Regions from separate parts of the Homo sapiens genome. Here region 2 is linked to region 1. A link means that fine-mapping ties the variant in region 1 to the expression of a gene that starts in the linked region. Tissue or cell type: whole blood. Region 1 holds a variant in brackets; the other region holds the start of a gene. All regions are shown on one strand. Distances are from middle to middle.

Region 1 (2,756 bases):
ATTGTGTGTGTGGACAGCTTGACAGATGATTTCCATAATAACCCCCTGGCTGGTTCTCATTTATTTTATTTTTTTAGAGTCAGGGTCTTGCTCTGTGGCCCAGGCTGGAGTGCAATGGAAGAATCATGGCTCACTGCAGCCTCAAACTCCTGGGCTCAAGCAAAACCTCCTGTCTCTGCTTCCTGAATAGCTGGGACTACAGGAGTGTGCCACCATGCCCAGCTAATATTTTAATTTTTTGTAGAGATGGGGTCTTGCTGTGTTGCCCAGGCTGGTCTCAAACTCCTGGTCTCAAGCATTCCTTCCACCTTGGCCTCCCAAAGTGCTGAGATTACAGGCATGAACCACCACATCTGTCCTTTGGTGGCCTTTGTATATACAGCAGGTGATCCCTGCGTTCAGGTATCTGGTGTCTGTCTCCTCCAAAGTGGCAAAGGAAAGGTCCTGGTGAGCTGAGAAAGGAAGGAGCCCCCAGCCTTGGCAGCCGATTGTTGACAAATTGGGCAGAAACCGAGATGTTAATGCAGGATCTTGCTGTCCATTTCCGAGATGTTAATACGCAATCTTGCTGTCCATTTCCGAGCTGTTAATGCGGTATCTCGCTTTCTGTTTCTGAGATGTTAATACAGGCTCTTGCTGTCCATTTCCGAGATGTTAATATGGGATCTTGCTTTCTGTTTCCATTTCCAAGACGTTAATACAGGATCTTGCTGTCCATTTCCAAGATGTTAATGCGGGATCTTGCTGTCCGTTTCTGAGATGTTAATACGGGATCTTGCTGTCCGTTTCCAAGATGTTAATGCGGGATCTTGCTTTCCGTTTCCGTTTCCGAGATGTTAATACAGGATCTTGCTTTCCGTTTCCGTTTCCGAGATGTTAATACGGGATCTTGCTGTCCATTTCCGAGATGTTAATACAGGATCTTGCTTTCTGTTTCCATTTCCGAGGTGTGAATGTCGATCTTGCTTTCTGTTTCCAAGACATTAATATGGGATCTTGCTTTCCATTTCCATTTCCAAGATGTTAATACGGGATCTTGCTGTCCATTTCCGAGATGTTAATGCGGGATCTTGCTGTCCGTTTCCGAGATGTTAATGCAAGATCTTGCTTTCCGTTTCCGAGATGTTAATGCGGGATCTTGCTGTCCGTTTCCACGGTGTTAATGCGGGATCTTGCTTTCCGTTTCCGAGATGTTAATACGGGGTCTTGCTGTCCGTTTCCGAGATGTTAATGCGGCGTCTTGCTGTCCGTTTCCGAGATGTTAATGCGGGGTCTTGCTGTACCTTTCTGAGATGTTAATGCAGGATCTTGCTGTCCGTTTCCGAGATGTTAATGCGGGATCTTGCTGTCCGTTTCCGAGATGTTAATGCAGGATCTTGCTGTCCATTTCCGAGATGTTAATATGGGATCTTGCTGTCCATTTCCGAGATGTTAATGCGGGATCTTGCTGTCCGTTTCTGAGATGTTAATACAGGATCTTGCTGTCCGTTTCTGAGATGTTAATACAGGATCTTGCTTTCTGTTTCCTAGAAAATTGGCAACTTCTCCATCGTGCGGCGGCTTGGCGTGCAGGAGTGCATTCTCCTGGTTACACAACGCATAACCAAATACCCAGTGCTGGTGGAGCGCATCATCCAGAACACGGAAGGTAGGCCTTCTCCCCACTGCCC[C/T]GCCCGCCCGTGCTGCTGCAGCACAGGGCTCTCTCCGTGTACCCACTCCCTATTTGAGCAGCAAACTGAATAAATTCCCTTTGAAATCCAGTTTGCTGGGTGCTGGGGTTCCTTCCTTTTTTTTTTTTTTTTTTTTAAGAGACAGAGTCTCACTCTGTTGCCCAGGCTGGAGTGTAGTGGTGAAATCATAGCTCATTGCACAGCCTCCAACTCTGGGGCTCAAGTGGTCCTTCTACCTCAGCCTCCCAAGCACCTGGGACTACAGGCATACGCCACTACACACAGTTAATTTTTTTTAATTTTTTTTTTAGAGATGGGGTCTCGCTGTGTTACCCAGGCTGGTGTGGAACTCCTGGGTTCAAGTGATCCTCCCACCTCGGTCTCTCCAAAGTGCTGGGATTACAGGCATGAGCCATCACATCTGGCCTGGGTTTTTTTGTTTTGTTTTGTTTTGAGACAGTCTTGCTGTGTCCCTCAGGCTGGAGTACAGTGGCACGATCTCGGCTCACTGCAACCTCCACTTCCCAGGTTCAAGTGATTCTCCTGCCTCAGACTCCCGAGTAGCTAGGACTACAGGCGCCCACCACCACACCTAGCTAACTTTGATATTTGTAGTAGAGATGGGGATTCACCATGTTGATCAGGCTGGTCTTAAACTCCTGGCCTCAAATGATCCACCCATGTTGGCCTCCCAAAGTGCTGGGATTACAGGCATGAGCCACCATGCCACGCCCAGCCTGGCCTGGGGCTTTTGATACAAGAAAGATGGGGTGGTCAGCACCATGAAAGCAGGAGCCAGGTCTCATTTGCCAACTGTTTCCCCCAGCCCCTAGCACAGGCTGGGCCACTGCAGGCCCTCAGTGTTAGTGTCTGTGGAAAGGATGAATGGATGGAGACGGTGCCCTGGTGGTTCAAACAGACCCAGAGATGGCCTCTGTGTCACATGACCAGGGCTGAGCAAGGGATGTGTCTGGAGCCAGGGAGGCAGAGAAGGGCGGGCAGTCCAGCCAGGAGTTCTGGCAGCCAGGGCCGTGCTGACCACAGCTCTCGCTTCACCACTGAATTCAGGCCGTGAGAGGATGAACA
Region 2 (2,628 bases), 100 kb before region 1:
ATGTGGCGAAGTTTTAAATTTTTTGTAGAGTACTCACTCCAGTGACAGGCTGAAGCCAGCCCAAGAGCCAAGTTTAGTGGAGCATCATGGCTCATGCCTGTAATCCCAGCACTTTGGGAGGCCAAGGCGGGTGGACTGCTTGAGCCCAGGAGTTTGAGACCAGCCTGGGAAACATAATAAAATCCCTGTCTCTACAAAAAAAAAAAATTAACTTAGGCTGGGCGCCATGTCTCGTGCCTCTAATCCCAGCACTTTGGGAGGCCAAGGTGGGAGGATTGCTTGAGCCCAGGAGTTCGAGACCAGCCTGGGCAATATGGTGAGACCCTGTCTGTACTAAAAATACAAACCAAAAAAAAATAGCCAGGCGTGGTGATGTGTGCCTGTGGTCCCAGCTACTCAGGAGGCGGAGGTGGGAGGATCACTTGAGCCCAGGGGATGGAGGTTGCAATGAACCAAAATCACCCCCACTGCACTCCAGCCTGGATGACAGAGTGAGAGCCTGTCTCAAAAGAAAAATTATATATAAAAAATTATATATAAATTATATATAAGTCTATATATAATCCATATATAATTATATATAAAGTATATATAAATTATACATAAATTATCTGTAAACAAAAAACTTAGCCAGGCATGGTGGCATGTGCCTGTAATCCCAACTACTCAGGAGGCTGAAGCAGAAGGATCACTTGAGCCCAAGAGATTGAGGCTGCAGTGAGCTATGATTTTTCCACTGCACTCCAGACTGGATGACAGAATGAGACCCTATCTCTAAAAATAAAATAAACAGTTTTTTGTTGTTGTTGTTGTTGTTTTCTAAAAAAAGCCAAATCTGAGCATTTCCTATCAACTCCACACTCGGTGACATCACACTGGTAGGTGAAATCGGCCATGCTGGGGGTATTTACACCAGGAGAATTGGCAATGGCTACAAATCGGAGAGGTGGTTGTTAAACGTTACCAGCACACCATGTTGTTCCGCCAGCTTCCAGGTACCCATGTAACAATGTAGCCACGTGTGTTTCTGTCTCTCTGTGTGTACCCACCATGCTGGTGTGTGTCTGGGTGCCTGAGTCTCTACGGATACACATGACCTGCACGTCCCTATATGTTGCTGTCTATACACCCATGTGCCTGGGTGAGGCCCCCACACCCTGTTCCTCTTCAGCAGTTGGTTCCACAGGAAGCTGCTGGGGTGGGGGTTGAGGACGCTGGGCCTCCCTCCAGCTCCCCACCCCTCCTCCTCAAGACACCTGCATGCGCAGGGCTGAGGGGTGGGAGCAGGGCTCTCTGCCTCCAGAACCCCCATCCTCTGGGCTCTTTTTAGGCCCCTAGATTGGCCTGCAGCTGGGAGCAGAGTGGCAAGCATGCAGGCAGGCAGTTGAGAAAGAGGAAGTCGAGGTGCTATTGGGTCATTCTGTGGTTATCCCAGGCTCTACCCAGCCAGCGGTTCCCTTGGGCCAGCTCGAAACGCTGGCCGTAGGTCATGGGAGCTGCAGGAGCTGTTAGCCAGGCTAGGTGCCTGCAGGTTGAAGAACTGAGCTCTATCTGGTAAGTACTTATCCTGGGAAGTGGAGAGAGATGGACCCATCGGGACAGAGTGGCAGTGGGGTCTGGGAAGTCTAGGGGGACAGCGAGCAGACATACATCACTGTTTCTCTCCCCCTTGCAGTCAACTTGCTTCCTGAGTGGGTGGGGGAAGCTGTTTGACCCTTGCGTTCATTGTGCAGAGATCTGTGGTCATAAGAGGTCACCCCAGGGGACGGGGATCCTTGAGGGGCTGCTAGGTAAGAAAGGAGGGTGGAGGCCGGGCGCGGTGGCTCACACCTGTAATCCTAGCACTTTGGGAGGCTGAGGAGGGCGGATCACTTGAGGTCAAGAGTTGGAGACCAGCCCGGCCAACATGGTGAAACCCCGTCTCTACTAAAAATACAAAAATTAGCCAGGCGTGGTGGCGGGCAGCTGTAATCTCAGCTACTCGGGAGGCTGAGGCAGGAGAATGGCTTGAACCCGGGAGGTAGAGGTTGAAGTGAGCCTCTCAGTCTCAAAACAAAGAAAAGAAAAAGAAAAGCAAAGAAAGGACGATAGAGCTCCTTGTAGCCAAGGCCCTCCTGCGTGGAGACAGGAGACAGAGAATGAATGGGGGAGCTGGGGCAAAGGCTCAGGTGCCCTTTGCATCTTAAACTGCAGATTCCGGGCCCCCCAAGAACCTCCCTGTTGCAGATTCTGAATCCACTGTCAAAACAAACTCACACTTAAGGCTGATGGCTGACAACCAGCCCTGAGAAGGGTCTTGTCCTGATCTGAAATCATCCAGAGAGCACATCCCTCCACCCAGGCAGCCTTCCTCCAGGTGAGGGTTCTCCCCCTTGGGAGACATCCCCTGTCTCCTCTCGTGGCCCCTTCTTAGGGGGACCTCCTGCACCACCGCCTGCCTGGGACTGGGAGGGGTGGGGGAGGAAGGCTGCGGTTTCTGCTGGGCACACCCAGTCTGTTGTTTCCTGCCAGCCCCCAATGCTGCAGGGCAGGCTTCAGGCACCCTGAGGTCTAGGAAGGTGGCCCCAGAACCAGGAGGGAGTGAATTGAGCTAGAGTGGACAGCTGGGGCCAGAGAGGATGGAGCTAG

The links. PIP is the estimated chance that this variant, and not a neighbour inherited with it, causes the effect.
Region 2: ARHGEF18 starts here. The variant in region 1 is fine-mapped to the expression of ARHGEF18 in whole blood (TOPMed, PIP above 0.99).

What each region holds. Positions count from the first base shown.
Region 1 is chr19:7,449,619-7,452,374 of GRCh38, forward strand. ARHGEF18 (Rho/Rac guanine nucleotide exchange factor 18) reads left to right here. Exons shown (of 29, transcript NM_001367823.1): 16 at 1,531-1,648. Among named protein-coding and RNA genes, the nearest start is that of PEX11G, 38 kb to the right of the region's middle. RefSeq lists enhancers at 642-1,186, 1,187-1,729. The variant C/T (reference allele first, on the strand shown) is at 1,671.
Region 2 is chr19:7,347,688-7,350,315 of GRCh38, forward strand. ARHGEF18 (Rho/Rac guanine nucleotide exchange factor 18) reads left to right here and starts at 1,250. Exons shown (of 29, transcript NM_001367823.1): 1 at 1,250-1,554.